Regions from separate parts of the Homo sapiens genome. Here region 1 is linked to region 2. The links come from fine-mapping of genetic effects on gene expression. A gene starts in region 2. The other region holds a variant in brackets. All regions are shown on one strand. Distances are from middle to middle. Region 1 overlaps BFSP2 (beaded filament structural protein 2). Region 2 holds the start of BFSP2 (beaded filament structural protein 2).

Region 1 (4,394 bases), 54 kb before region 2:
AATATGCCCATCATTGCGATATTTCAGTTAGATGGCCCGGCTTTAGATGATCTTGAATGTTTCTTTTGGCCTTAAGACTATCAACAACCAGAAACCTCACAATTCATTTCAATCTATTCACTTGTCTTCATTCTTAATAGTTTGCACAATCTGTCATCCTGACATGTGACATGAAGGCATGATGGTTACAGCTCAGATAAAGTTCCTGACCGCAGATGCCTCAAACTGACCTGAGGCAAGTGCAGACCTGCTGTTAGAGAAGATAGCATGGGAGCAATCCATTTGTTCCTGACCCTGGGGACTCTTAAGACAGACTGAGTTCTCTCACATCCGGGCAACCACCAACTTGTGCTGGTGATTGATTAAGCCTTTGGGTATTGTATACATCAACCAGTTGCAGCAGGCAAGGGATGGAGAAATGAGGCCTCTGGGAATGAAAGTGTGGAGTCAGCTTTGGGCAAATGGAAATTGAATGGAAGGAGCATCTCAGGAAGAAGGCTAAGAAGGCAAAACAGAGCTTGCATTGCAGGAGGCAGACTTCAGACCAGGCTTAGGGTGAGGGAACAAAGACGTCTCAGTGCCCCGGCTGAGAAATTGGACAAGAAAGACGGGACCCGTGCTCCCCTACAGGAGGTGGGCTGAGGGCAGAGCTGTTTGCCTGGCAGAGGAGGTGAGATGGTGGGGGTTTGGGGAGGGGCAGAGTTTTAGTTCTCTGCTCAACACTGAGGGGCCTGGTAGGCAGAATTCTAAGATGGCCTCCATGATCTCTGCTCTCTGGTGTTATGTCCAATGATTAAATTATGTTAGATGACAAGGATGAAGAGATTTTGACATGTAATTATGGTTCCAAATCAGCTAAATCTGAGCTGATCAAAAGAGGAGTATCTGAGTGGGCCTGACTTAATCAGATTAAAGGCTTAAAATGGTAATGCTTTTCTGTTGGCCCTGAAGGAGCAAACAGCCATGTTGTAAATGGCCTCTGAGGAGGACTGGCCTCTAGGAGTTGAGGACCTCAAGCCTACATCTGCAAGGAATTGAACGATGCCAAGAACCCGAACAAACTCTGAAGATGAGAATGCGGCCCTGGTGGGTACCTTGATTGCAGCTTTGTGAGACCCTGTGATGATGCAGTGTAAACAAACCTATTGCACTGCCAGTCATATAAAAGTCTAGCACATACAATTATGTGCAGTGCATAACACTTGCTAACAATAGTAAATGTTACTGGTTTATGTATTTACTGTATCTATACTTTTTATCATTAGCATACTCCTACTTATTAAAAAAGAAAAATAGTTAACGGTAAAACAGCCTCAGGCAGGTCCTTCAGGAGGAATTCCAGAAGAAGGCATTGTTGTTACAGGAGCTGAAAGCTCCACACATGTCACTGCCCCTGAAGACCTTTCAGTGGGACAAGATGTGGAGGTGGAAGACAGTGATATTGACGATCCTGACCCTGTGTAGGCCTAGGCTAATGTGTATGTATGTGTCTTAGTTTTTAACAAAAAAAGTTTAAAAGGTTAAAAAAACCCCCTCTTAAAAATAGAAAACAAGCTTATAGAATAAGGATAAAAGAAAGAATATTTTTGTATAGCTGTATGACGTGTTTGCATTTTAAGCCAAGTGTTATTATAATAGAGTCAAAAATTTGGAGTTGGGGACTCTGTGCCCCTTCTCACATACGTTGCCTTAAGCATCTCCTCCATTTGGCTGCTCCTGAATTGTATCCTTTATAATAAGCTGGCAAAAATATGTAAAGTGTTTCCTTGAGTTCTGGGCACTGTTCTAGCAAACTATCTACTTATCCCTCTGCAGAGGAGGTTGTGGGAACCCCTAATTTATAGCCAGTTCATCCGAAGTATGGGAGGGCCAGACTTGTCATCTGAAGTGAGGGCTGTCTTATGGGAC[T/C]GAGCCCTTAACCTGTGGGATCTGATACTACTTCAGGCAGGTAGTGTCAGGATTGAATTGAATTATAGGACACTCAGTTGGTGTTTGGAGATCTGCTTGGTGTGGAACAAACCTACATATTTGGTGTCAGAAGCATTTTGTAAGAGCATAGGGGACAAAAAGGATTTTTTAAAAAAGAGATGGGGTCTCACCATGTTGCCCAGGCTGGAGTAGAGTGGCTATCCATAGGCATGATCATAGTGTACTTCTCCTTTGAACTCTTGGCCTCAAGCAATCCTCCTGCCTCAGCCTCCTGAATAGCTAGGACTACAGGCACATGCCACAGTGCCCAACTTAAAAAAAAAGTTGTTTTGTTTTACTTGACTAACTAGGAGGTCTAGAGTGTGGTGTGGCATGTTGTCTGAGGTTCCTGAAGCATCCCTGAGTACCCTGCATTAGGTAACCACAACAAATAGACAAGGAAGAACTAGACTTTAAGACCCTCCAGAAATTCTCTGGACCAATCTGATCCTGTCATCACTGAATCATACAACTTCAGAAGCTTCAAAAACTGGACCATGAGGTTCCTGACATTCGTAACACCATAGCTGGAAAGAATATGAATACTGCACTGACCTTAGCCAGAACCTCTTAATAAATTTTTTTATGTCTCTATTTTATTAAGCTTTTAATGACTGAAAAAATAAACAGAATTGGCAGATAAGTTCTAGCAGATGCTGATGGTACCACCTTTATCCCTTAGGCTTTCGCAGTTTAGTGCTCTCCTGTTCCCCCTGCCAGATTCTGCATCTTTTTGCCTGAGAGTTTCTCTGAAGCCTTTGGAAGGCCACTCTGATAGCAGATGGCAGAAAACTGTTGGGAGATGGTATTAACATCTCAGCTCCCTTGCCTTTCCCCTCTCCTGTAGTCTATACCGTTTCTCACAATTCTTCTTGGTTTACACGTCAGTCTCCCACAGTGGTAACTGGTTTGATTAGGCATTCTTTGTTGGTTCCCTTCTTTGCTTCTCCTCTACTGGTATTTTGTTGGTTTTTAACTCCCCAACTTCCAGGTAAACTACCTTAACTCCAATATTTGTTTCAGGATCTGCTTCTGAAGGAACCTAAACTAAGATATAAATTAATCATGTTAATTAATTTTCAGCCTCTGTGGTCCGAAAGGTAATTAAATGCATGCTTGCATTTTCTTTACAAAAGCTTTTGAAAGCTGTGTGTGCTAAGCCATTTCACATTTATGCTATGCCGCCAAGAAACCGACAAGAGATGCTCAGGATGGGCAAATGTCAGCCCCTGAGGGCACAACTGCAACTGACAAAACTATTTATTGGAGGAATTCTGGCTGTCAGTTCAGATCTCTGTTGATGATCAGAGGAATTCACTCATTCTGCAAATATTTTCTGAGCTCTGCCTTTCTGCAAGAGGCCCAGGCAGCATTGGCCAAGCTAAAACAAATACTGTCTGTTTTCTCTGAGATGTAGCTTTCAGATTACTCTATTAAAAAAACACTAATGAATCTGTTCAGAATTAATGTTTGAGTTACTGTTGGGCTAGTGATGATTCTCCAAGGGGTGAGGAGGAGATAATAATGACCTTTTTTTTTTCTTTTTCATACTATGAAGGATTTATTTCTGATAATTATAATAGTCTGTCCTTTCCCAAAGAAACAGTTACCACAGTGTGGTGCACACCGCAGGAGGGCTGGGACAGAAGCAAAGTTTGCAAACTGCTGGGCCTCTGAGGTTTAGCTTTAGAAGCAGAGCCAGGGGAGAAACGATGCAGCCCAATGCAGAGAAAAGGTCTCTGGACCAAGAACAGGAGAGTTGAACTATGGAGCTCTCAACCAGCTGTGTGATCGTGGGAAGTCACCTGCACTCTCTGGGTCTCAGTTTCCTCACACCTAAAATTAGGGAATGGGATCAGATGGTCTCTAGGACCATTAATTATCTGTTATCTGTCATGAGTCTGTTAAAAAAGGCAATGGACCAAACTCAAATCTATGGCTTCACTTTACCTCTGTGTTGCTCCACTTCTCATCAGGTTGGGTGGGGCGAGGGGAAGTCATTTTTTGAATAACTAGGCTCTATTTGCCATAAAAAAGTGTTTGTAGTGACCTGGCTCAATGATTGGTGGTTAGAAAGAAAGGAAGCTATTGAAACGGGGTAGGGGTTGGAGAAATGGGTGAGTGAAAGGATGTTTTCTAGGCTGGAGAACATTTTGGGAATCCAGAATTGATGAAGACCCTGCTGGGAAGGTTCTTGTTGATACTTGGGGGATAGAGGGAGTATGGTGGGAGAAAGGACAGAAAAGCCTCTCCTATTTTTCTTTTCATAGCTTTTTATAATTCTTATGGTTCTCAAATCTGGCTGCATATTAGAATCATCCAGAGAGCTTTAAAAATCACAAAGTCCCTCTCCTCTGTCTGATTTGGTTGGTCTGGGATGGCGATTTTTGAAAATGCTCTGAAATAATTCTGCTGCGTAGCCAGGA
Region 2 (4,394 bases):
ATGGATGCAAGCAGAACAGCAGCACCAGGGGGAGAGCCTGAGAGGATGGTGCTGTTCATCATGCACTCTGTGCTGTCAGTGGGCACTGACAGCAGTGCAGGAGAAGCATCCTGGGATGAAGTGGGAGGCAGGAGGGGCAAATGGGGAGTCCCTGTGTGCAACTGCTTAGCTTCCCCCAGCTATACACAAATAAAATTTTGTGACCTCCTCTTGGGAGGCTGCATACTGGACTCCAGGGGGCCAAGGGTCTGAGTTGGCAGTCCCTGGTGGGTTAGAGACTGATTTTGCTCAGAGGGATCCCAAGGCCAGCATCTGGAGAGAAAGAGGAGGAGGAGAGGTGAAGCCAGCTATCCACAGAGAGACCAGCTGAGAGGTGTAATGCTGGCTGGAGTCCCAGCATTAGAACTACAGGCTGCAGGCCAGACATGATGGATGTGCTCCAGACTCCGCAGAAATCACCCTGGAGAGTGGGAAAAGCAGGGCTGACCAAGCAAGGGAGAAAGATGAAACCTCTGCATCCTTCCCTGTCCAATAAGATAGCCATTAGCTACCTGTGGCTGTTTACATTTAAATTAATGAAAATTAGATAAAATAAAAATGCAATTCCTCAGTCTCATTAGCCACATTTCAAGTGCTTGATAGCCATATATGGCTAGTGGCTGCCAGATTGGACAGTGCAGATATAAGATATTAATATTTCCATCACGCAGAAAGCTCTACTTGAATGTAAATTACCTCATTAATATATTTTGTATTGATTACATGTTGAAATAACATTCTGGACATATAGAGTTAAATAAGCTATAATATTAACTTCACCTGCTTCTTTTTACGTGTTTTACTGTGGGTAATAGAAACTTGTCAATTACCAATGTAGTTCATATTTCTATTGAACAGCGTGGTTGTAGGTGGATACAGGAACACACCTCCATTTATTCATTGTTCTTAACACCTCATCCATCCAATGGTATTTGATTGGATAATAGCTGTAAAAATCCCTTCTCAACAGTAAAGGTGACTGAGGCAGCCCCAGGGTAATGGGGCAAATGCAACTTTGGAGGCACAAAAATTCAGGTTCAAATCTCATCTCCATCCCTCTACTAGCTTTGAAGTCTTGGGCAAATTACATGCCTCAGTTTCTCATCTGAAAAATGCAATCAGTGAATGATCCACTGCATAGCATTTCTTTGAAGTTTAAAGAAGACAGTGGGTAGTGCACGTATGGGGGCTAGCGTGGGCTCCTAGTAAACCTCGGTAAAAGGTAGCATTGTTGTTATCATTACCATTTTAAGTGTGAAAGTGTAGGGGATTATGGTCAGTTTCTCTGGCCTCAGCCTACTCACAACCCTACCCGCTGCCTTCAGCAGCCCCTCCCAGCCCTCTGCAAAGCCCTTGGCACAGCCTGGACACTTACCTGCTGGCAGCTGCTGGCCCAGGAAGCCCGTAGGGCACCCCAGTTTCCCGAGCGTGTGGCTTTGCTCTCCAGGTGCATCCGCAGTTGTGTTTCCAGCTCCTGACTGACTTGCTCAAGGGCGTGCACTTTGGCCATATATTCCACCAGGCAGCCCCCTAGGTCCTCAACAGCACCATGGTCCCTCTCCAAACCTGGAGCCGGCACGGTGGCCAGGCCTGAGCTCCGCAGGCCCTGAAGGAAGACACTGCTGATGCCGAGGGCCCGGCGGGTCACACGGGCACCCAAGCCACCTATGCACCCACTGGGTGCTGTTCCTACATAGACCCCGGGTGCTCGGACAAGGCCACTCATGGCATTGGTCCTGGAGGCTGGGGGGCTCTCCAGGGAGGATGATGACCGTGGCCCCCTGAAGGACGCCCTGCGCCTCTGGAGGGGCATGCTGGAGCTGGCACTGGTGGGCAAGTCCACTACCACTCGCCTCTCACTCATCACCCCTTCTGCCTCTGTGGTGCCCAGTGGGTTTACAGAGTCCAGTGGCTTTTGGTTTACAGCCCCAGCATCCCTGTGGCCTGGTCACGGGCCTCTCTGGAATCTCCCCTATCCCTGGGGCTGCTTTGTCTGCTGTCTTCCATGAGTTTCCATCATTCACTGAGCTGAAAGAGAAATGGGCACTGCCCAGGGCTGTGTGCAGAGAGGCACTCATGCATTCTTTGATGCAGGGTCATGTGCCCAACCTCCCAGATTATTCTGCTGGTGGTGGGGGAGGCTGGATCAGTGCAGGCTGTGGAGGTAGACCATTTGGGTTTGTGCATTTTACTACCTAAGTGGGCAAGGCAGGCATCAAGCAACCCCATTTTACAGATGAGTAAACTGAGGCTCAAGGACCTCAGATGACAAGTGTACTGATCACTTGCCCCAGACCTCAGATTACAAGCTAGGACTCAATCTAGCTATTTCAGGGCTTTCTACATCCCTATGTGTGCTGGCACATGTGAATGTGAACACATGTCCACACAGGCAATAGAGGATGAAAAATGGCAGGAGGCAGCTCCAGGGACCCAAGAGAAAAGACTTGCCTATGGTTTCCTCTCTCAGTCCTGGCAGCAGCTTCAGGTCCTTCCCTCACCTCTCTCCTTTCCTCCTCATCTCTGTCCTCTAATGCTCTGCTGTTCATCAGCTGCTTGCTGTTGGCCAGGATGCTTCCTCCCTCTGGACCTCACTGTCTGAACATTGGCTTGGGCCTTTAACTCTCTGATGCACCAGATAAGGACCTTGGGCAAATTCAGATCCCACACATGTTCCGGCCATTCCCTACACCTCTGCTTCTCCATCTGTTGGAAAACTGAGAAATAAAAACAACAACGAGGGTGTTTTCTGGTAAGCCTCTCCAAGGGTGCCCCAAGTTAGGATATGATGACACCCCTGGGTTTTAATTATTGACCTTGGCATCCACTAAGCCACCAAGGGTCACACCTCAATCACTTCTCTAGGATCAGAAAGGTTCCCCCAGTTACAGGATGACAACATGGACCTAAAAACCTCTGTACATAAGTTTTACCCTGGAGAAACCAGGTCACCAAACCCCAGAGCTGGATACTTTTCCAGATGCTGTAATGTAGGAATGTACCTCAGGTGAGAGAAGGAGAAGGGAGTCAATCTCTAGTGAGTAGCAGATCCAGCCTGGTGTGTGCATGAATCCTATGGTTTATTTCGTGGAATTCTCAACTCAACCTCAGGAGGAAGGAGGTCCAGGGTTGACAGGTACTGCCATATGGGCTGTGTACCTCACAGCTCTAAAATGACATGTCCTACAGTTGGCCACTGTCCTCTTATGTGAGGAGGACCCCGAGAGCTGCAATGACTTGCCCAAGGTTCTATGTCCAGAAAGTAGCAGAGCTGGGGGCAGACAACCTCTTCCAAACTCTGGGCCACTGACTTACTTAGGAGCCTCCCTGTTGCCCACCACCCAGAGAGCAGAGTACCTACCTGAGGTCACGCAGGTAGAGGTAAAAAACCTGGTCGCCTACTAGAGGACCCTGTGTGCACTTCCTTCCTACTGACCAGGACACTCCAACCCTTCCTTTCTTTATTGTCTTCCACTTTGTCTCTCTGAGATGGCCTGGGAGGTATTTTATAAATATCAGTGTTGGCTATTTGATGAACAGATGAAAGAACCAATTGGATTAAGTAAAGGCCAGTAGTGTCCTTGTTTATTCAGATGTAGCATTAATGCTGTGAACACCACCCCTGATGCACCCAGAAGGGGCATGCGAGCCTGTGTTACAGTAACAGCCTCCTATACGGATGACACTGACTTGGTTCTGAGGATCTGCATTATTGTGAATTCCAAGATGTATTGTCCAAGGCTGAATGAAAAGTTCAGGCTACTGATTAAGTTGTGCACAAATGTGTCATGTTTAGGCATTGTTATTCTCTACAGAATGGTAACACTCAATGGCCAGGTTAACTTCAGACTTCTCCGGACCAAAGATATTTACTATATAAATCCACTCAGCCCTGGAGACAGGGAGAAAGAGGGGGGGATGTACTTTGACACCACTGTCTCCAAAGACCTGATGAAAGATGAGTCTGTTTTGGAGAAACTGCAAACATGTTCAAAAAGATTTATTTTATCAAATGATAAACTGCTAATCCTATTAGCTCATCACATACATAAAACTCAACTTACTGTTAAATCAGATTAAAAAATACAGATGGATATAAAGTGGTGTTGGTACTGCTTAAGGAAGACTTAGAGCTTATCTTGAAAAGAATGCAAAATGTATTAGCAACAGAATCCTCTGGCTAATAAAATAAGTTTATTTATATATACATGGTAGCTGAAATCTGTGGATAAGGAAAAATAAGTCATACATCCACATATGTATATATAACATATGTATCTTTGATTACATATATTATATATAAATTTTACTTTACAAACAGATTTTTCTCTGTATACTTACACACATTGGTATAT

Evidence for each region. PIP is the estimated chance that this variant, and not a neighbour inherited with it, causes the effect. A credible set is the group of variants that fine-mapping cannot tell apart.
Region 1: its variant is the best candidate, but not a certain one, in a credible set for the expression of BFSP2 in spleen (GTEx, PIP 0.54).

What each region holds. Positions count from the first base shown.
Region 1 is chr3:133,452,021-133,456,414 of GRCh38, reverse strand. The region is part of intron 4 of BFSP2 (beaded filament structural protein 2); the gene reads right to left. It overlaps BFSP2-AS1 (BFSP2 antisense RNA 1), which reads left to right. Exons shown (of 4, transcript NR_189064.1): 2 at 952-1,086. Among named protein-coding and RNA genes, the nearest start is that of BFSP2-AS1, 37 kb to the left of the region's middle. The variant T/C (reference allele first, on the strand shown) is at 1,909.
Region 2 is chr3:133,397,593-133,401,986 of GRCh38, reverse strand. It overlaps BFSP2 (beaded filament structural protein 2), which reads right to left and starts at 1,931. Exons shown (of 7, transcript NM_003571.4): 1 at 1,415-1,931. The coding sequence starts at 1,903. It overlaps TMEM108 (transmembrane protein 108), which reads right to left. Exons shown (of 6, transcript NM_023943.4): 6 at 4,212-4,394.